Homo sapiens: one gene and its partners. The protein of the gene in region 3 purifies or fractionates together with the protein of the main gene of each other region. This does not show direct contact. Each region holds a gene or a part of one and is shown on either strand. Other genes may lie near its edges. The genes, in order: RAB3IL1, CDK19 and CYRIB.

What was found.
Region 1: the proteins of CYRIB (region 3) and RAB3IL1 purify together in Homo sapiens (affinity purification with mass spectrometry; 2 studies listed by BioGRID and IntAct, with this or other methods). This does not show direct contact.
Region 2: the proteins of CYRIB (region 3) and CDK19 purify together in Homo sapiens (affinity purification with mass spectrometry; 3 studies listed by BioGRID and IntAct, with this or other methods). This does not show direct contact.

The regions. Positions count from the first base shown.
Region 1 is NC_000011.10:61,907,528-61,914,629, forward strand, and holds part of RAB3IL1 (guanine nucleotide exchange factor for Rab-3A), read right to left. Parts: intron 780-7,102; coding exon 527-779; intron 134-526; coding exon 38-133; intron 1-37. UniProt on the Homo sapiens protein: Guanine nucleotide exchange factor (GEF) which may activate RAB3A, a GTPase that regulates synaptic vesicle exocytosis. Promotes the exchange of GDP to GTP, converting inactive GDP-bound Rab proteins into their active GTP-bound form.
Region 2 is NC_000006.12:110,616,397-110,623,498, reverse strand, and holds part of CDK19 (cyclin-dependent kinase 19), read left to right. Parts: intron 1-20; coding exon of another isoform or gene 21-111; exon of another isoform or gene 112-130; intron 131-136; coding exon 137-209; intron 210-586; coding exon 587-684; intron 685-1,332; coding exon 1,333-1,411; intron 1,412-2,128; coding exon 2,129-2,395; intron 2,396-7,102.
Region 3 is NC_000008.11:130,013,557-130,021,616, reverse strand, and holds the start of CYRIB (CYFIP-related Rac1 interactor B), read left to right. Parts: upstream 1-5,056; 5' UTR 5,057-5,247; intron 5,248-8,060. UniProt on the Homo sapiens protein: Negatively regulates RAC1 signaling and RAC1-driven cytoskeletal remodeling. Regulates chemotaxis, cell migration and epithelial polarization by controlling the polarity, plasticity, duration and extent of protrusions.

The DNA of each region.
Region 1 (7,102 bases), on a different chromosome or scaffold from region 3:
CCATTCCCCAAGTTGTTCCCGCGCCCAGCCGGTGTACCTCAAACAGGCTGGCCGTCAGCTCTTCCAGCTCCTGTTCTAGCTGCTCCCGCACCTTGGACAGCCGCTCACATTCCTCGTCCTTTAGCTTCAGCTCCTGGAGGAAAAGAGGCAGGCACTTGAGCACCTCAGCATCCCCAGGCCTGGCACGGGAGGGACCAGGCCCACCGGACCAGGTTCCATCCCCTCGTCATTTTATGTGGGGCTCAGAGTTTATTTCCTCTGGTGCCTGACAGTTTGTGATGCTTTTTCCGTTTAGCCACAGCATGAAGCTGAAGCCCTGCCTGCCAGTTCATCAGAGCTCAGGGCACGTTTGCAGTCAAGACGGGTGACCATCGGTGCGCCCAGTACAGGCCTGGCCAGCAGCTGGCCTCGGTGAGGGCACATCCCTCTCCCTTGGGCACATCTCTGGGCACCTGATGAGAGCCCACAGCTCTCCCAACCTGACTTCTCCCCACCGAAGACCCCCCAGCCTACTGCAGGCACCCACCTTCTGCGCTCTGTGCAGCTCCTCCTTCAGGAACTCGGAGCCCTTCTCTCGGATCTCCATGGAAGAGCTGCGCAGGCGCAACACGTCCAGCTGGGCGGCTGCGGGGCCCTCCTGGCCTTGGGCCTCCTCCCCTGCAGAGGTCTCCACCAGGGCTCCTGGGGACTCCCTGTGGCCTTGGCAGGGGTCCGTGCTCTTCCAGGGGACCGGGACAGCTGCAAGGGGCGGCGGGAGGCCCTGGTCTGGCTGGGGTGGGCTGGAGACAAACAAGGGTATCAGCAGGTTCAGGGTGGGGTCCTGAGGCCTGGAGAGCTGAGTCCAGAAACCGCCCCGGGGCAATGTGCCTGCCACTTGAGCCTCAGCCTTTCCATCTGAAAACTGGGACCCTACCAGCTATCATCAGTGTTGTTACAAGGGCAAATGTCCAAGCACAAAGTCTCTTGGGGCAAGAGGCTTATTACTCTTTGTCAACCACCCCTTCCAGCCCAGGGCTGAGGGCTGTGTTTGGCACATGCAGTAGGTGCTCAGCACACAGTAGGTGGTCAGCGTCTTTGTCTAACAGGTGACTGTAAATGCATCAGGGTTGAGTCCCACTTGTATTAAGTGAAGCCTATTCCAATGGCCCTACCTCAAAGGTCACTGAATGATCAGAGGAGGTGTGGGTAAAACCTTGACACCTCGGATGCACTCAAGCAGGAGCTGCCTTCACTGATACAGTTAATGCGAATTCTGCCCCTTTCAGGGTGGACCAGAGAGGAAGGATGAGGCCAGGGCAGGCAGGGCTGAGGCAGGAAGATTCTGCAAACAGCTTGGACAAGACAGACCCACTTCCTGTCCCCCTGGACTTGGTGGGGAGCAGTCCCAGCTCTCCCCTGGCCTGCCTTGTGACCTCAGGCAAACACCCCCTTCTCTGGGCCTCAGGACCCTCCCTTCCCTGAAGCTGAAGACCCTGGAGGTGGTGTGAGGCCTCATTCCGCCCCCACCCACACTCTCCACTCCAAAGTGGACCCTGGAGAGGGAAGGGAGGGCGAGGGCCCGGCCAGCGGTGTTTTGTGCCAAGACAGCACCTCTGGACTCGCTCACTCAGCAAAAGCTGGAGGCTCCTGAGCCAGCAGCTTCTGAGCCGCAGCAACCAGGGCTGGGGATGGGGGGCTGGGCGGGCCACTGATATCAGTGAGGGAAGTTGGGGGGAGGGGCTCAGGGAGGCTGCACCAGAGGGGGAAGGCAAGGCCAAGGAGAAAGTGGGACTCAGGACGGCTGAGGCAGAGGGAGGAGTGAGAGGCAAGTCTGTGGACCAGTCTCCCCTCCCTGTCCTCAGGACCTTGGGAAGGTCACCAAGCAGCCCCTGAGCCTCAGTTTCTCCCTTGGTTAACACACAGAAAATGGGCCCCCAGAGACTCCTGCAAGGAGCCCACTTCCAGCAATGAGTCCCTTCACACAGCCCGGTCCAGCTGCCCAGCCCCACCTGCCCTCTGCTCTGGAACCGGCCCAGAGTGTGGCCTCAAGGCTCCTCAAGCTGGGTCCTGCCTGGCAGGGATGTGGGTCTTGAGGATTAAGGTGGGGACACATATCCATCACTCCATCAACAGTGTCTATGCCAGACAGGGCTCTCTCCTAATACTCCTGTTTGGGGAAGTCTTGTTGGCAAGGGTTCCCCGCAGCCTGAGAGCTATGGCGGAGCCCTGGGCTGGGGTCTGTGCCCTGGGGACTCACTCTGCCAGACTCTTCCACAGGTCTCTGACCACGCTGTCTCCTTTAAAATTCTCTCAACAGCAGCTGGGTGCAGTGGCTCACGCCTGTAATCCCAGCACTTTGGGAGGCTGAGGCAGGTGGATCACCTGAGGTCAAGAGTTCGAGACCAGCCTGGTCAACATGGTGAAACCCCATCTCTGCTAAAAATACAAAAATTAGCCGGGCCAAGATTGTGCCACTGCACTCCAGCCTGGGTGACAGAGCGAAACTCTGTCTCAAAACAAACAAACAAACATAAAACTCTCTCAACAGCACTCGTGGTATTGTCCCATTCTACAGATGAGGGGACGGAGGCTCACAGAGTGAAGGGACTTGTCAGGGGTCACGCAGCTGGTCAGTGACAGTGCTGGGACAGGTGGCCAGGTCTTCAAGCCCAGGCCCAAAGCTTCCCCGCTGCAGGGGAAGGGCAGGTGGGTGCGGAGTGTGAGTGTTGGAATCGGCGCATCTGCTTCAAGATAAAGCGCTGCTGGGCCCAGGGAGACTCGGAGGCTCCTCTTTGGCTGCAGTAGGGAAATCTGACCCAATTCTGGCCCGAACTGGCTTCTCAGACTCTGCGCAGGCCCAGAAACCCCCTTTCCAGAAGGCAGGGCCTGGGCAGGGGGAGCTGTGGCAGAGAGAACAGGCCAGATGGGGCAAGCCTGGGGTCCATGTCAGCCTCTGACCTGGGGTACACATGAGCCCCTGAGAATGCTACTGAAATTTTCTGAACCTGCTTCTGCACCTGAGGGATAGGAGCTGAAATCCTGCAGGAGGTGCTCTAAGAATCAAGAGCTCTAAGAGCAGTCCTGACCTGGTGCTGGGTGAATCATGTTCAATCCACAGCCATGTTTGGCTGAGACACTCACGAAGCCTGCCTGGGCTCTGGGTCCCACAGCTTAAACTGGAGGCCTGTGGACCCTTGCCAAGAAGACTTCCCCGAACAAGGGTATTGAGAGCCCTGTCTGGCACAGACACTGTTGATGGAGTGATGGATATGTGTCCCCACCTTAATCATCATGGCCCAAGTCCTCAGGTAGGACAGGATGGCCATAGTCACTCAGGCTGGGCTGGGGGCTGCTCACTGCAGGCCAAGGGCAAGAGGTGACAGCACAGGACAGGACAGAGGACTCTTGCAATTGCCTATGCCCTGACCGAGGAGAACCAGGCTGCCGGCCCTCCCATGGGGGCCGAGCTTCATCCACCAGTGTGGTCTGGGCCTCTGGCCACAGTGAAAGACTAACTCTCTCTCCTGCTGGTCCCAAGCACATAGGCTGGAGGTGTGGCTGGCTGACCTCACCATTTTCCCAACAGGCTCTCATTTTTGCCTTGTGGGGCAGAGTGGGGACAGGGCCCAATTTTGTAGCCAGAGGAAACAGTGGTCCAGGAGGCCTGTGACAGAGTCTGTGACATCCTTCCCATCACCCCCAGTAGAAGAGCCCAAGGCCAAATCCCAATGGCAAGAAGTGTGGGAACATGGGAACAGTGGGACCACCCAGTAGCCACCAACTCCCCAACGCCAAAGGTGGCAGGAGCAGGAGGGAAGAAGGGCCTGACCTGCCCTTGGAGGGTAGCCAGAATCTGCAGACCCTCTTCCTCCTCATTTCCAGGCTGCAAGGCCAACTCCTGAGACTCAGAAATTTCAAAGAAGGGACCCTGGGCTCCTCGGGTCCAGCCCAAGCCAGAATCTCCAATCTCACACACACTTTAGCCTCCCAGACCAGAGGCCTGAAAACCTGGCTGTGAACACCCAAGTCAGTGGTGAACTCAGTCGTGGGGCAAGCAGGGACCACTTAATGTTCTGCTGCCCAGCGTCCCTACCCTCCTCAGTCCGGGTCCACCGCTCTCTGTACAAACCTCCTCAGTCCCCGTTCCCTGCAGAAACAGAGCCCAGCATCTGAGATGAGCCACAGATGCCTCTGGAAAGGAGCCTGTTCAGAGGGTAGGAGTCAAGGTCAGAGGTAGATGGGGCACCCAGCCAACATCCCCCATCCCAAAGCCAGCTCCCACTGCCGAGAGGCCCAGGCAGTTCATACAGGAAAGGCCCCACGGGTCACTTCCCCAGGAAACACACAACCAAAAGAAAATGCAGTAACCACAATCCTCACCCCACCAGGCCCACCCTAGGAGGGCCAGCAGGGCTCTTGCCCCGACCCACAAAATAAGAAGGAGACCTAGACTCCGTGGCCCTCGGTCTCTCAGTGTCCCCAAGCCAGCAGGGCCTGGCCAGTGGCCAGACCAGCCTATTCCTCAACCAGTGCCCAAGATGACCCTGTCCAGTTACCTCCTGGAACTAAAGACCCCTGTTGGTCATGGGCACAATGGATTCATTCAATAAGCAGGGGAGGGGACAGCAAGGGTGGTTCTGAAACTGGACGAAGGAGACGGCTGGGAGGGCACACTGGGACCACTCAGCGGGCTGCCAGGGCCCAGGCCTCTAGGGAGGCTGCAGAAACCCCGACCCAGGGCCTGGCTCCCCGGGGCGGTGCCTTGGCACAGGGGCCTGTTCAGATTCACGCTCAGCCTTTGCGGTGACACTGAGGGGACGGAGGCTCACAGCCATGTGATTAACATCCAGGGACCAAGGGAGTCCCAGGAAAGGGTTGGTGGGCCAGCTCTCAGGCCAGCCTGCAAGCCCAGCAAAGCTTGGCTCCCCTAGAGAGCGGCCAAGTCTTCAGCCCCAAACCCACAAGCATGTCAGGTTCCCAAGCGCTAGGCCACATCCACGCCAGCCCACCACTCCACAGGTGTCATGGCCTGGAAGCTCGGGACAATTGCAGGGAGATGCGCTCCTCCACCTGGTTTCCAGATGAGGCCCCTGAGGTTCAGAGAGGGATGGTGACCTGGCCAGAATGCACAGCAAGGAAGTGGCAGGATGGGAACTGAATGCAGAGTACAGGCATAGCGTATCACGTGGCCTGTCACCCAGAGGAAAGGGGATGAATGGCGGTTTTGGAGAAGTGAGGCAAGAGGCAGATGGGGTTTGAGGAAGTCTGAGACAGCGCCCAAGTACTGGAGGTGCCACCCAAGAATGCTGTACAGCCAGGCAGGACCTGGGCTAAGAGGGGACAGCAGAGGGGACACACAGAAACAAAGATGGGAAGGGGGAATTGTGGGAGGAACAGGGGCTGGATGGGGGGGCAGGAAAAAGCAATAACAATAATTAAGATAATTCAAAACTAAGGAAAAGGTGAAAGCTGAGAACAGCGGTACCCATGCTGGGAGTGAGGAACTGGGAGGGGGTCTTTCAGGGACAGGAAAGTGGGTGGCTGAGGCATCTGGGAAGTGGCACGTCCCGTAGGCAGCTGAGGGGGAATAGGCAGGATGGGGTGACGCTGTCGAGTGGCACTGGTTTCGGGGAGCAGCTGCAGCCTGAGCCTGGATGAGGGGCTGTCAGGGAGGACAAGGGCTTGAGAGCCAGAAAGGACGAGAGTGTTGGACACCAGAGCCGAAGAGTGTCTGGGACCCGGGGATGAAAGAGATCGTCATGAGTCTCACTGAATTGGGCCAGGAACCAATGAGCTCAAGTCAAGGAGGGGACAAAGGGACAGGTGGGAACCAAGGTGGGCCTGGGCCACAGGGGAAGGGGAGCCAGAGTAGGGAGAAGGGCACAACAGCATGTCCTAGTAGAGACCATGGAGGAGGAGTGGGGGAGAAGGTCAGGAACAGCTGGGGATGGGAAGCAGATCAGAACACCTAAAGCAGGTGAGTCAGGCCACGCCTCCGCCGGCCATAGCCCCAGGCCACCAGGCCAGTCCAGCCCACCCCTGGCGGGGGAATCCAGCCCTGTCTCTCCATGGGAGCCAGCACAGGGCCTAGGAGGGGGCGCATCTCACTACTCTTCTACAGGGCTGGGCACGCAGTACATCCTCAAATGCGCCTGTGGCGACCCTGCCCATTCAGTCCAAGAATTGACACCGAAGACCTCCAATAGCTAGTGTGTATACTGAGCACCCATTATGTGCCAGGCACCCCACCAGCCATGATCCATCCAATCTGCACGACCAGGCAGCCCCCTTCTTACCATATCCTATTTTGATTTGCATCTCCCTCCCGCTACCTCATTTCCAAAGACCTATTGGGCATAAATCATGTGCAGAGCTCGGAGGGTCTAGGACAAGCAGGATTCTAATGAGGATGTCTGCCCCCAACACCCATGTCCTGATTAAGGAACAGCAGGAAAGATCTCCACCTGTTGAGGGGTAGAGTAGGCAGTTAGATCACGGAGGGCTTCCAGGGAGCAGCAACAGTGAGGGTTATACAACCCCTTCCCAATGAAGAGGCCTGTGTGCCTGACCTGGAGCCCTCGGGCCATACTTCAGACTCTTGTCTCACGGCCTCTAGTCCCCTGTGACTTGGGCCTTACAGGCAGGAGCCCACAGATCCATGCCCTTAGAATAGCCAAGGCCCAGGGCAGTGAAGTGACTTGCTCAGGATCACACAGCCAGTTGATGGCCCCTACAGCCCTGCCTGCCGCAAAAACATGCTCCCCAACCCCTGGGAGGTTGGAGTGGTCTCATCTCATTCCTGGGCCATCCATCAATGCCTGGCCCTCTCTAGCCATAGGTATGATGAGCCCCGTCTCTGGGGAAACTGAGACCAGGGGGCTGGAACAGTGTCATGCAGAAACTTGAACGCTGGCTTCTGCTGACCAAGTCCCAAGTGTCCAGCACCATGTTAGATACAGAAGTACTCAAGACGCTGTCCTCACCTCGTCACCTTGGAGCAGGCTTGGCACCCAAAACTATGAATGTGTGAAACTGTGGGGAATCGGAAGGGGGACAACCCAGTTTGGAGGGGCACCTAAAGTCAGACTGGAGCTGCCTCTGGGTTTGGAGTTCAGGGCCCATG
Region 2 (7,102 bases), on a different chromosome or scaffold from region 3:
ATGTGTTTCTTCTTATTCAGAAAAAACAATGACTTAAACACATACCTTATAGGAAAGCCAATCCTGGAGCTTATCATTAAGAAATATCAATTGGATGAGTGTTCCCAGTGATGTGTGACTGTGCGTGTCCTTGCAGGTATGCCAACAGTAGCCTCATAAAGTACATGGAGAAACACAAGGTCAAGCCTGACAGCAAAGTGTTCCTCTTGGTAGGTGCTTCTCTCCCAGACTAAAATCTGATTCTCAGCACAAATCTCGCCTTCTATTTACTCAGCTATTCCTCCTCTTTAGAAACAAAAGAAATTAGTGGATGCTGGGGTAAAATTAAATATTTTTTTTGTTGAGATGTCACCCTGTCTTTCAGCCTTCACTTTAAATGATTTATCAGCAGAAAATGAACTTTATAAGGGCTTTAATGCTGATGATTTCTGCCAATTTCACATAAAAGTATGTAGTATGCATAATCTGCAGTGAGCTACACCAAATGTATTTTATATTAATCCTGTTACACAGTAATACAAAAGACAAGGTGTTGACTTGTAAATAACCTTTTCATGTGCTGTACATTTCCTGTGTGTCACTCTAGCTTCAGAAACTCCTGACCATGGATCCAACCAAGAGAATTACCTCGGAGCAAGCTCTGCAGGATCCCTATTTTCAGGAGGACCCTTTGCCAACATTAGAGTATGTATCCTGTCTTTTCTGTGTCCTTTGCTCCAGGCTGAGGAGGCTGCATGGTGGTTGAAAGCAAGGGAAGCACTTGCTACTGAAGTATTTAACTTTTTCAATGATACCACCTAAAGACTGCTCAAGAGCAAGCTTCCACATTTTGAAACAGGCAAAGCTGCAGAGAGGGATGAATGAAAACAAGTATTTTAGGAACGACCATTTGTCAGTTTTACAGATGAAAACTAAAGCTGATAACAGATAAGACCTTTACAGACCAATTGGCCAGATCAGAAATTCAGCCAAACCAGTAGGCAACAGAAGTTAATCTGTCTTTCAGAGCATGTCCACTGCACTACAAAACCTCTCTACTCCTTCATCCTTCTTAACCCCAAGTATAGACTTTGTGTTTTCATCTATAAGAGGTGTAGTTTTTCTTGTTAAGGCAAATACAAATTAAGTTATTTTTGGCGCTAATGAAGTTAGTATAGAGAAACTTCTGTGTCCTATATGTCAACTAGCTAGCAGCAGTCAAGATTTGAACACTAGCCACAGATGAAGAGTAGGAAATAAGTGAAGAAAAACAAATTGGAATTTTAAATTAACAAGGTAATGATATTACAGATTTTAGATCATGATATGTTTTTTCTTTTTAATGATTTTTAGTGTATTTGCCGGCTGCCAGATTCCATACCCCAAACGAGAATTCCTTAATGAAGATGATCCTGAAGAAAAAGGTGACAAGGTATAAACTGCACGGTATACTTTCACTTCCAAAGAGCAAGGGAGGCAAAAAGATAGTTTAGGTATCGTTCCATAATTCCTATACATTTAACCACCTTTTCTAATATTTAATTAAATTTGAATGTATCTTATTTTCTGTGGAAGTTTGGGGATTGTAAAGGTACCTTGAAGTTTGAAGTATGACCAGCTCACAGATACCTGAGCTTCCGGTGTGTGTTACAGCCAGTTCTACTCCCGGATTCCCACTTCTTGCTCTTTCTGTTTGTTTGGTGTCACTACCACCCCTTTATGCAGGCTGGCTTTTGCTAGCATCACTCTGTTCTTTCGTCTTAACTGGATATATTGGCTCACTCTCCAGACCGCTCTGCCTTTCCAGAATCACGATTGAAAAGATTTCTTCTAGCTGTTTTAATGAGCTATAAGAAATGTATTTCTAATGTGCCTGTGGCCTTCAGTGAGATGTCTGTGACTGATTTGGAGGATCACTGTGCAGTCTAAATGAACTTCAGGGAAAGAGTCCTGTTTGGGGCTCAGCGCCTTGCCCTTTGGGAACACTGTGTTCCCTGGCTGCTCCATTCTCCAGTCCTCCCCATCACTCTAGTGTCCCACATAGATTGCTCCCCCAGGTTGGTCAGCAGCCACATGTGCATATCAAATAATTAAAGAAAGCTCCTGTTAATTTGGTTTCATACCAAGCTTGCTTTTTTCCCCTTAAAAGAATCAGCAACAGCAGCAGAACCAGCATCAGCAGCCCACAGCCCCTCCACAGCAGGCAGCAGCCCCTCCACAGGCGCCCCCACCACAGCAGAACAGCACCCAGACCAACGGGACCGCAGGTGGGGCTGGGGCCGGGGTCGGGGGCACCGGAGCAGGGTTGCAGCACAGCCAGGACTCCAGCCTGAACCAGGTGCCTCCAAACAAGAAGCCACGGCTAGGGCCTTCAGGCGCAAACTCAGGTGGACCTGTGATGCCCTCGGATTATCAGGTACTCCCTGAATGTCTAATGTTCATATGCTTTATGAAGTGGGGAAAAGATTTATCCTAGATCCTTTTAGAGTTAAGTAACACTTAACTCTTACATTTGACTGTGCAATCCTGTTTCTAGGGCATTCTATGAAGAGGAAGATTTTCATCATATTTCATGTAATTGTAAGATATCTCGTATTCTGACTTGTTTATCCTGACACCCGAGGAGAGGAAGGTAGGGAGGCCAGTGCCCCCATCCTTAAAGAAAATTTCATCATTTTACCCTTATAGCTGCCTTAGCAGTTCTGGTGTATCAGAAAAAGATACGTAGATACGCAGTTGAAAAGGGAAGGGGAGTGGTGTCTTACTTTGGACAAAATTAATTGCATTCTTTAGAAAGATATGCTCTTTCTGGGAGGAAGTAGCTACATAGATAAAGAAGAGAAGGGGGCTAAGACTGAGGCTTTTCTGAAATAACTGTTAAGTCTCATTAGAAATAATTTTGAGACTAGAAAATACTTTTTGTTATTCAGATAAAAAGAGAACACCAATTGCAGTGCTAATTCAGGAAATTAAAGGAGCTAAGTCTAAGGATTGGTATTTGGAGAGAGGTAAAAATACCCATTGTGATAACCATAGGAAATTTTGAAAAAAAAATTTTTTTTCAAGGTAGTAACAAGTTAAGAAACCATCTAGGAAGAAGGGAAAACTTAAGTTTTTTGTTTGTTTGTTTTTTTGTTTGTTTTAAGTTTAGAACCACAGTCCCTCCGGGAACTCTTGCAGATGAGTGCATAGGATAGAGATAATAGAAAACAAAACCTCTGGCAAGGGAACCATAAACTCACTGATAAGGAACTGCAATAAAGAGAAACTTTAACAAGAAAGACATAACAAATAGCTGCATAAACTGCCTTCACATTTTGAATAGCTCAACAAACTAATGTGTTTCCACACAACTACTCTGAAAAACTTCTCTTCAGAATATCCCTGCAAGCAGAAGAGTACATAATACTTCCACTTGGTTCCAATTAAACAAATTTAGGCTTCAGTTTGATCTACTAAAAACAGCTTGCTAGCTGGGTAGTAGCATGAGCATATTTGAATTTTGTTATAAAATCTGTTTCCCCTCCATTATATGAGCAACAAATGCTTACTATATACTGGTTCATCTTTGTGTGTCTGATTGAATTATATTAACCTGTGTTAAAAAATAATAATAATTTGCCTAAACACTTGTTAAAGTTGGTAAGGCAGACTTTATTCAAGGCGGGGCCATGTTAGTGCATAAAGGGACCACTGCAACAGGGGCTGGCAGTTGGGGAGGAAGACTGGACTCAATTCAGACTCCTACATGACAAGTGGAGAGGTATAGCCAAAGAGCAGGGTGGGGATCAGTGGATGGAAAGTTACCAAGAGGAAACATCCAGGATAAAAGGTCTCTGGCTAAACTGACTGCATAGTATTAGGCTGAAGGGAGGCCTGGGTAATAAGCTTTTAAAGGTGGGGGATTTTTGCCAAGCCAACTTAGCAAGATTCTTGCTCTAACAGGATTCTCCAAGGACAGAGGAAAGCCCAAGGTCAGGCCTAGTCAAGCAGAAGACTCACAGAGCTCCCTCCAACACGACCCTGTAAAACTTCCCTCCAGCCTCTTTGCAGACAACACCTCCTCTACTGTGCTGCCCCAGGCAACAACATGTTTTCATACCTTCTGTAATAAACCTGCCTTTCTTTACCCAAAACCATCTTGGTTAAAACCTTGACTGCCTGAGAGCAGCCTGACTGCAGTTTTTGTCAAAGGAAAGAGTCTTTGTCACCCAATTGTAGTCAATTATAGACAGATTACTGTATTTCTTTTTTTCCCCAAATTCAAACATTCTTTGAAATGCTTTTCTATGTCCATATTGTTCTGTTGACTTAAAAATAAACCTTTCATAGCTGAGTCCTGATGTCTGTGGAAAAAAATAATAAACCTTCCAACATATCTATTAAATGAATAGATACAGCTATTTAGTTGGAGAGACTGGCATGAGGGGCAGTCAGGTGTCCCATTACACCGAACTTGCAACTCATACACCATCTAGGGGCCAAGGGAAAAACTTTCCTTTCACTCTCTGAAAGTTCGCTGAAAAATCAACTCACAAAAGGCAGGTTAATTGGAGAAAATGTCATGGGTGTGACTAGCTAGGGCCAGTGTCTCAGGCAGTCAAGGTTTTTACTAAGAGTTCTGGGTAAAGAAAGGCAGATTTATTACAGAATGTATGAAAACATGTTGTTGCAACAGACAGCATAGCAGAGGGAGGGGCTGTCTGCAAAGAGCAGGGGCTGGAAGGAAGTTTTACAGGGTCTTGCGGGAGGGAGCTATGTGCCAAATGAGGTCATTGTGCCCACCAGTTGTTTGTGACTAGCAGTGTCTCAGAACAATTGTTCATTGTTTTTCCCCACCTGGAGCCCCTTCCTCCTTGTTGCTTACTTATCAGGACAGAAAGGCATACAACTTTGATACCAGTGGGCTGAGGGAGGTCCCCAGATGCTGGTGGGACCTCAACCCCACCCTGTGTCCAGGCTCCTAACACCATCGGGAGAAGGAATTAAAGGATGAGTCAAAAATAGCAAAAGTATGGAGATTTATTGCAGAGGGAAAAGTACACAACTCAAGAAAGGGGAGTGTGGGTATACGCAAGAGAGAATCTGGCTGGGGACAGTGGCTCATGCCTGTAATCCCAACACTTTGGGAGGCTGAGGCGGGTGGATCACCTGAGGTCAGGAGTTCAAGACCATCCTGGCCAACATGGCAAAACCTCGTCTCTACTAAAAATATAAAAATTAGCTGGTTGTGGTGGTGCAAGCCTGTAATCCCAACTACTTGGGAGGCTGAGGCAGGATAATTGCTTGAACCTGGGAGGCAGAGGTGCAGTGAGCCGAGATCGCGCCACTGCACTCCAGCCTGGGTGACAGAGTGAGACTCCATCTGAAAAAAAATAAATGAATAGAGAGTCATGCAGTCTGGTTTGGGTTTCTATCTTTATGGGTTTCTTTAACCAAAGGGTGGAATATTCATGAAAATTCCTGGAAAAAGGGGGAGATTTCTTGGAACTGTGGTGCCACCCATTTTTATGCCAAATATGGATGTTCTTGGAACTGTCATGGTGCTGGTGAGTGTGTGATTTAGAATGTTAATGAGCATATAATGATGTCCTAGGTTTTTAAGCAGAAATTCAAAGTGTGTTTCATGTAGTCTTTTTTTTTTTTTTTTTTTTTTTTTTTTTGAGACAGAGTCTCACTGTGTCACCCAGGCTGGAGTGCGGTGACGTGATCTTGGCTCACTACAACCTCCACCTCCTGGGTTCAAGTGATTCTCATGCCTCAGCCTCCCAAGTAGCTGAGACTACAGGCATGTATCACCACTCCCGGCTAATTTGTGTGTGTGTGTGTGTGTGTGTGTGTGTGTGTGTGTGTGTGTATATATATATAAATAATTTTATTATTATTATTATTTTTTTAAGTAAAGACAGGGTTTCGCCATGTTGGTCAGGCTGGTCTCAAACTCCTGACCTCAAGTCATCCACCTTCCTTGGCCTCCTAAAGTGTTGGGACTACAGGCGTGAGCCACTGTGCCCGGCCAGAAATTGTCCATTTTTATGGTTTAGGGTCAACAAAGTGTAGACAGCCATGTAGAAACATGATTGGACAGAAGGGGTATGATCTGATGCTAATAGACTGAGGGGGAAACCCAACATGGCCTGTCTAGGTTCCTGTTGGTCTCTCTAAGCGTGCATTCCTGCCTCTGGGTGTGGGGCAGGACCCCCTCTGGGACAGGAGTCTCATGACCTACAGTCAGACAGGATATGCCAGATCATTTCTTTATGTCCAGTTTTTACACAGAAAGGTAGGGGGAAGTTAGAGTAATATTTTTAGGTTTCACAGCTGGTGTTGGGGAAGTGGGGTTCTGGTTTCTATGGCTTGCCTTAGGGAAGGGGAATTCTAGTTTCTATGGCTGGCTCTGAGGAGAATGGGACTGTGAGACAAGAGGGCACAAAAAGGTCAGAGAAAAACTTTTGCTCCTGAGGCCTTCATTTTGGGGTATTGTTTTCTGTGCCCCAACAGTTCCATTAGTAGAGTTTCAAGGCTTTTGAGCTGCTTCATCAATGTATTGTAAGCAAGTACAATTAGCGCTTTGAAAAGCGGGACATTGGCTTATTTTCTGTCTAAAAAACCCTTTGTCATTAAAAAAGCTATGTTACAGCACATTAGATTCTTACATGTTTACATTATACTTTATGGCAAAATTGCCCCAAATAACGTATGAGTTGAAAGAACATTTTTCATAATAAACTTCAAAATAAAACACGTAATTAAAATTTGGAATTTTTAAAGACTTCTGTAACCAATGTGACTATTCAGTTGTGCAACTTAGGAAGGGGCAAAACTAAGTTTTGTTTTGTTTTTTTTTTTTTGAGATGGAGTCTCCCTCTGTCGCCCAGGCTAGAGTGCAGTGGCGCCAATCTTGACTCACTACAACTTCTGACTCCTGGGTTCAAGCGATTCTCCTGCCTCAGCCTCCCGAGTAGCTGGAACTACAGGGACCCACCACCATGCCTGGCTAATTTTTGTATTTTTAGTAGAGATGGGGTTTCACCATGTTGGCCAGACTGGTCTTGAACTCCTGACCTCAGGTGATCTGCCCAGCTCAGCCTCCCAAAGTGCTGGGATTACAGGTGTGAGCCAC
Region 3 (8,060 bases):
GGCCTTTGGGAGGTGATTAGGTCATCGGGGTGGGGGCCTCATGAGTGCACAAGTGTCCTTGTAAAAGAGACCCCTGAGAGCTCCTCTGGCCCTTCCACTACTTGAGGATGCAGCGAGGAGGCAGAAATCTGCAGCTGGGAAGAGGACCCCCACCAGAATCTGACCATGCCGGCACCCCGATCTTGGACTTCCAGACTCCAGAACTGCAAGAAGGAAACTTCTGTCGTTTATAAGCCATGCAGTCTGTGGTGCTTTGTCGCAGAAGCCCTAATGGACTAAGATGTACCCGGTTTTCCCCATGGGTCCATGTTCTGAAAGATTTTCTACACCGTATAGTAACAACAACGATGGCGACAATGACAACAATAACAATAGCTGTCACCGATGAGGCACCTTCCGGGTGAATGTCACCTATGCTGTCCCACCCAGTCCCCCCCACAGTCCTGAGATGACGGTGACGCAGCATCTCCGCCCCCATTTTGCCTGATGAGGAAACGCAAGGCGTAGAGAGGCTCAGTAGTTTTCCAAGCCCCTGCAGCCAATAGGAACTAAAGGCAGGAGTTGAATTCAGCTCTCTCTAAATTGAGCCTGGTTTTTCCACTATGTTACACTCTTCTTCAGAAACACAAATTAATGAGCGGGCTGTGGTGGCTCATGCCTGTAATCCCACTTTAGGAGTCTGAGGCAGGAGGATTGCTTGAGGTCAGGAGTTCGAGACTAGCCTGGGCAACATATTGGAACCCCGTCTCTACCGAAAAACAAACAAACAAACAAAAAACCCTCAAAAAACACAAAAAGCACCAATTAAGTTATAATAATAACAATAATATTCAAACTACATTATTCAATCCTAAATCCTTTTACTTTCCATTGTGAAAGGATTAGTTACATAAACCGGCTGCTCTTAGTTACCGCACTCTGTTGCTATGATTCTGACATATTGGTTCATTTCTGCAATGCTATTGTGGATATACTGAAATACTGAAAATATACTTAAGGTTCTGCTCACTAGCTTTTTATCCGTCAAGTTATTCTTTCCCTAAAATTCAGGTGAAATTCATATGACACATAGCTAACCATTTTAAAGTGAACAATTGGGTGGCATGTGGTACATTCACTAATGTGCAACTACCACACTTGATTTAATTCCAAAATATTTTTGTCACCCCCAAAAGAAGCCCTATATCCATTAAGCAGTTACTCCCCATTCTCCCCTCCTCCCAGCCCCAGGAAACAATCACTTATCAGCCTTTGAAGCCCGAGGCTCTGCATCTCCCGGTAAAGACCCTGTTCCAACTTGAGGGTTAGCTCTGTGTGTCCCGGGAAGTCATTCCACCTCACTGAGTGGGATTCCCAGCCTAAAGGGGCTAGCTGAGCCTCTGAAGCATCTTCCGAGGGCTGTGCTCCAGTGCCAGGACGGCATTCCTTAGTGAGCTTGGGCGTAGTTTTCCCTTTCGGTTCCCAATGGCCAGAGGTGTGAGGAGACTGAAAAGCAGGTGTGAGGAGACTAATGCCGCTGAGTTTGCTTTTATCACGATGGGATGTGGAGTGGGCTTAATTGCAAAATACTAACAGCAGGACAAAAACTGAGTCTCTGTGTCTCCCAACTTTACCTTCTGTTACCTTTTGTACATAATAGCACTCTTGCAAATGCTCAGCAGGGAAATGCATTTTGGAGGAATATTTTTGAGGGACTTTTGCATATATGAAGGAAATAGCTATTTTTTTTTTTTTGCTTGAAAGCTGTGTGGACCACATGTGCTATGAAAGCACAGCCTTCTTTTTTAATTTTTAATTTTTAAAATCTTGGTTTTTCAAGATTCTTTGCTTGGCCAATGAAAGCACCAGATTCTAATGTTGAAAGTAAAATGTGCATGCTGCTTTCCAGTTATAAAGCATGAAAAACTCATTTTCTTACATAGTCCTCTCAACAACAGAAGATAATGTTATTATTCCCACTTTACAGATAAGAACATTCAAGAAGTCAGAGGTTAAATGACTTGCCCAGAATTGCACAGCTGAAAATGGCAGGCAGGCTTTCCCAACTCCAAAGACAGTGCTGTCTATAGGATGCTGGACTTCTGCCTACCATTGTCAGGGTTGACATCCCGGGGAAACAGAGCAGTCACTACAGAATTGCCAGAGGTTTCCCCGGGTATTATTCCCAGGTTCCCAATGGCTTGAATTGGTCAAACCTATCAGGATCAGAGTGAGCCTAGGCTCATGCTCTCAGCCTCACTGTATCCAGTGAATGGAGACTTTCTCCTCTGAGACACACACATCAGAGTTAGACTCTCCATCCCACATATTTCAGAATTCAGTAGAGTGCAGGCTAGCAGGCATCCAAGCCCTGCCCTCACCTTCATCTATTCTTCCCTGCTTCCTGGACCCCCAAATTTGCATTCCATGTTACGCTCACATCAAACTATTTACAGATCCCAAGCTTGCCTGAAAGTTCCTTACCTCATGCCTTTAACAATTATTATGGTAGGCCAGGCGCAGTGGCTTGAGCCTGTAATCCTAGCACTTTGGGAGGCTGAGGCGGGTGGAACGCTTGAGTTCAGGAGTTTGAGACCAGCCTGGGCAACATGGCAAAATCTTGTCATCACAGAACAATACAAAAATTAGGCTGGGTGCGGTTTTTGGGAGGCTGAGGTGGGCGGACCGCCTGAGGTTGGGAGTTCGAGACCAGCCTGGCCAACATGGTGAAACTCCACCTCTACTAAAAATACAAAAATGAGCCAGGCGTGGTGGTGCACATCTGTAATCCCAGCTACTTGGGAGGCTGAGGCATGAGAATTGCTTGAACCCGGGAGGCAGAGATTGCAGTGAGCCAAAATTGCGCCACCGCATTCCAGCCTGGGTGACAAAGTGAGACCCTGCCTCAAAAAAAAAAAAAAAAAAAAAGGTAAATTGTAACAGTTATGATAATAGTAACAACAATGGTGATTGCTTTCTCCTGGGTCCTATCCATATTAGGTTCTATATATTCGCTATTTCATTTAACCCTCACCATAACCTAACGAAGTCATTATTATCCATTCCATTTCACAGATGAACAAACTGAGGCTGAGAGTGGCTAAGTGCTTGGGCTCTGGAGTCAGACAATCTAGGTACATACCCAGCTCCACCGCTGTCTAATCTGTGTGATCTTGGGCAAATCTCATCTCTCTTCCAGCTGCAGTATCTTAATGCATGACACTGGGCCATGATAAACCTGCTTCATGGGCCTGCACACACTTGGCACCTGCTTAGTACTTTATAAATGTTCAGAATTGTTAATGCTCATTTTATAAGCGGCTCAGCTCTGCCTGCTTCCAAACCCTTTTCCTGCTTCTCCTCAAGGTCATAGTTCAGGACCCAGTGTTTCCCCACCTACTTCTCAGCCCCCACAGCAAGGTGGACATTAGTTCCCTTCCTTTAGGAATGAAGGCACTGGCGCTCGGGTAAGCTTAGAGAGCAGTCCAGGGAGTACTGCTGAAATGGCACCATCTCAGGGTCCCCAGCTCCGAGAACTGGGCCTGGCCAAGAGAAGGCGCAAGGCACCTTTGTTAAAGAATTGGCGGGCTGGGTGTGGTGGTTTATGCCTGTAATCCCCACACTTTGGGAGGCGGAGGCAGGGAGGATCCCTTGAGCCCAGGAGAAACAGGCCAGCCAGGGCAACACAGGGAGACCCACCTCTACAAAAATCTATAAAAATTAGCTGAGCATGGTGGTGCATACCCGTGGTCCCAGCAACTCGGGAGGCTGAGGTGGGAGGATCGCTTGAGCCCAGGAATTTGAGGCTGCAGTGAGCTATCGCATCACTGCGCTACCTAGCCTGGGAAACAGAGCAAAATCCTGTCTTAGACAAAAAAAAAAAAAAGAAAGAAAAAAGAAAAGAAATGGAACAACTGGCTCCTAATCAGGTAACTCAGCACTGAGTATGATGTGAGCACACTCCAACCCCCCTATAGCTGGAGGTGGAGGTGGAAAGACAATGGAAGCCTTTGATGTAACCCTTTTGATACCCTGCTAGAGGACAGCAGAAAGATACTTGAGAGAATGTTGTCTATCTTCCCGAGAAATTTCTGGTTGAATGTCAAGATAATGATAGGATGGGCTTCTGGGCCAGGGGAGCAAGGCAGAGGGAAGGAGAGTATCAGTTTCCTAGGCATGTCCTGTTACAGGGAGAAAAACACAGTATTTTCCATTCTAGATCAGGGGAAAGATGAGGTCTCCCATAATACCTGAAACTGGAATTATGGCGAGGAGCTTTTTATGTGGGAATTTCTGTACTAAATTTAAAGTCCTTGGAGAACCGCTTAGGGTAGCACCGACAGCCCGCACCGTCCCCTCACCCCGCTTTATTTTTCCTCTGGCACAGCACTTAGCACCATAGGACCCATCAGATATTTACGGCCTGTCCCCGCTGCCCCTCCCGGGCAGGGATTTTGTTTTGGTTCGCAGCTGCAGCTCCAGGGCCTAGAACAGCCCGGGCACTTAGTAGGCCCAGTAAGTATCTGCGGGAGGGCTGAATGGGTGCGTGGACAGCATTCCTCTCACTGACCCCGCTGCGAGGTGAGCCAGGCAGGGGCTGTCACCATTCCTGAAGTCCAGGTGAGGGGGAAGCGACCCAGGGATGGGAACCTGGCCGGCCTGAAGGTCTGGAGACCGGGGTTCGAGCCCAAGCCCTGCCTGACAGGCAGTGACCTTGGGGGTCACTCTTGCGCCTCTCGGAGCCGGGTTTCCTCCTCGCACAATGAGGGCGATGACCCCCAATCGCAGCGCGCCCCGCGGTGACTTGCCCAAGGTCACCACCGTCCCGGGCCCGTGGCGCCCCGGCTCGGGAGGACACGGGCCAGGCGGGCGCGGGGTTCTGGGGTGGGGGCCGGCGCGGGGCGGTCCCGGGGCGCGGCGCGCGCTGACGCCGGGGCCCCGCGATGCGGCGGGGACTGGGCGCGGGGGGAGGCGCGTCGCGAGGCGAGCGTCCTCCTTTTGTGCGAGCGCCGGCGGCTCGGCTTCTCGAAGGTAAACAGCGCTTCCTCTTCCTCCTCGCCGCGCCTCTTCCTTTTATAGTTATTTCTCGCCTGGCACTCGCCCGGGCTGCTGCTGCTGCTGCTGCTGCCGCCGCGGCGGGGGCAGCTCGCAAACCTGTGGCGGTGACGTGAGCCCCGCCAACCCGGAAACGGCGGCGGCGGCGGCACCGGAGGCTCCGAGGCTCCTGCGCTCCCGCGCCGCGCTCCCCTCGCCCGCCCGGGCCGCCAGGTACGTGCCGGGGCTCTGAAGGCGCCGCCGCCCGGCCGGCCCGCGCGCGCGCCCCTGGATCCGATTTGCCCCCGGAGAGGGCGCGGGGTGCGGGGCGCGCGCGTGATGGGTGCGGGGAGAGGCGGAGGTACCATCCGGGCCGCCGGGCCGGGCGCTGCGGCGGGTGGACAGGGGGCGCCGCCGTGGTGGGGGCGTCCGGGCCGGCGGGCGCGGGGGTCCCGGGGGAGGCGCCTCGAGTGCGCGGGGGGCGGCGGGCGGACGCGAGGGGAGCGCGCAGCGGGGCCGCCGCCCGGGTCCACCCAGCTGCGGAGCCGGCGCCTTGTGCGCCTCGAGGCAGGGGGCGCTCGGGTCGGGGTGGCTGGTCCCTGGCAGACCCTTCCTGCGAGCCGGGTGTCGGTGCGGGGACTGACCCCGGGAGCAGCGCTGGCCCCCGGCCACCTCCCATCAGGGGCTTGGAAGACCAGTCGCATTGGATTTGAGGAACTAGAGGGGGTGAACAAAATCTCCACTGGCCTCAAGACTTCCTCCTGGGGTAGCCACCCGCCTGTGTTTAAAGAGCACTTCCTCTTCGCCTTTTATCTTTTCATTATCTTTCTTTTTAAATGGAAGTTCAGTGTTAGCGGGTGGGTGCCCTTGCAGCCTGCAGGGCTTTCCTGGGGCTGTGTACACACACACTGGGGTTGGGAAAAACCTGTGTGTCCTTTGAAACGTGTGTCCTGTGTCAGGAGTGGAACGAAGGAGGAATCGAGGTCTTACCATGCTGGAGCTACTTGGAGTGTGCCTTTGCTACCCACCCTGCTGCAAGAGGTGGAGGGGTGCGGAGGGATAGAGCTGGGGCTGCGGGGGAGTGTCACATGCACTTTGCAGCTATGTTTAATTCCTGGCCCTGCCGCTTACTAGCTGTGTGACCTTGGGCAAGTCGCTTACCCTCTCTGAGTCTTAGGGTCCCGTCTGTGAAATGGGCTGCTGCGAGTGGGGCCTTGAGAAAACGAGCGTAGATTTCCTGGCCTGCAGGGGGCGCAGTGATAGAAAGTGTCATTGCCAGTCACCTTGAATTTCTGCATCCCCAGCACCTAGAAAGGGTGCGTTGAAGCACGTGGGAAGCACCCCATAGATAATTGTGAGATGAACGAGTGGGTGGTGAATTTTGAGAGGTGAGTCGGTGTGCTTCCACATTTTGGCTTCCTTGCCCTGTAACATCCATCCAGGATCTCCAGGGAGCAATTTTGCTATCTGGGTTGGATGGACTCCTCCCCTCTCTGAGGAAGACCATCTTGTGAAAATACTGACTCCCTTGTGAAAAAGGGCTTAAACTCTGACTTTGAGACTCTCCCATTCTTGGAAGATTGCACTGGGGGAAAAATAAAAAGAAGGCGTCATTTTGATTGCCACCGCCAGGTGACTGGCTGAGGCCAACAGCCAAGACTGAGCCAGGGCTGACGTCTGGGATGGTTTCCCAGGCCTGGGGTTCCTGTAATGTGGGGGAAGCCCGGAAGAGGTGACTTTTCTACCTTGGTCGGCATGCAGAAGTGGTCAGCTGGCCTGAGTTTTCTTCCTGAGGAGGCACATTGGAATTTGCACTCTAGATCCTTGCTGGGCTCACAGCACGGAGAAGGGCAGAGTGTGTGATGCAGGAGGCTGAAGTGGGTTCCAGCACAGGGAGACTTGGAAATGGTTTTCAGATAAAGGCCAATATATGTTTCTGCCCTTCACTTTGGGAGATTTTCAAGTAATTTTGCTGTCTCTGACAGCCACCCCTTCTCCTTTCTCAGCTCCCAAAGTCTTCTGTGTGCCTCTCTTAGGATCCTTAGCTATGTGGGTCCCCCAACTCCCGACCCCCGTAAGTGCTACTATTATTTTTAAGAGACAGTGCAGACCCTTCTGTGCAGCAGCGTGCTGCAGTTTGAGCATGTGCAGATTCATTTTGTTTGTGTTTTGACAGGGTCTCACGCATTGCTGAGGTTGAAGTAGTGCAGAAGTAGCGTGATCATGTCTTACTGCAACCTTGACCTCTCAGGCTCAAGCCATCCTCCTACCTCAGCCTCCCAAGTAGCTGGGACCACGGGTGTGCACCACCATGCCCAACTAATTTTTTAATGTTTTGTAGAGATGGGGTCTCTCCATGTTGCCCGAACTCCTGGGCTCAAGGGATCCTCGCTGCCTTAGCCTCCCAAAGTGCTGGGATTACAGGTGTGAGCCACTGTGCCCGGCCCAGATTCATTTTTAATGACTGAACTGTGGAGTGGCCAGGGTTACCTGTAAAGGAGAGCTAGGGTTCTCGTTTTCCTGAGACTTAGAGAGAGTGCAGGACTTGGCCCAAGACCTTCAGTCAGGAAGGGGCAGATTGAGGGTCCTTGCCTAAGTCTTCAGCCTGCAGAGCTCACTTTTCTTCTTGCAGACGCTGAGTGGTCTTTGTGCTTCCTCTGGCACCTGACCTGCTGCCTGGCCCATGCAGGAAACAGTACGTGTCTTTTGACAGAATGGGCAGAAGAATGATGGGTTCCCCTTTGCTCTTTGAGGATGTACATTCTTTTTCCATCTCAAGGTCAGCGCACTGGCCTGCAGTTGACCTTGAAATGGTTGTCCCGTGGTTCCTCCCTATGTGGAATCCTGGTCCCTGACAGCTCTTATATCAGGATCCAGAGACCCATGCACACGAAGAACAGGAAGGACGCCCGAGGGACGCGGGTGCCAGGAGGTTGTGGCCTCACCCGTGCTCAGCATTACTGCCATCTCGTTAATTGAAGAGACCACGATTCATGTGGCTTTGGCGGTCTGGGACTTGGCTGTCTTCAGCAAAATCGTCCACCACT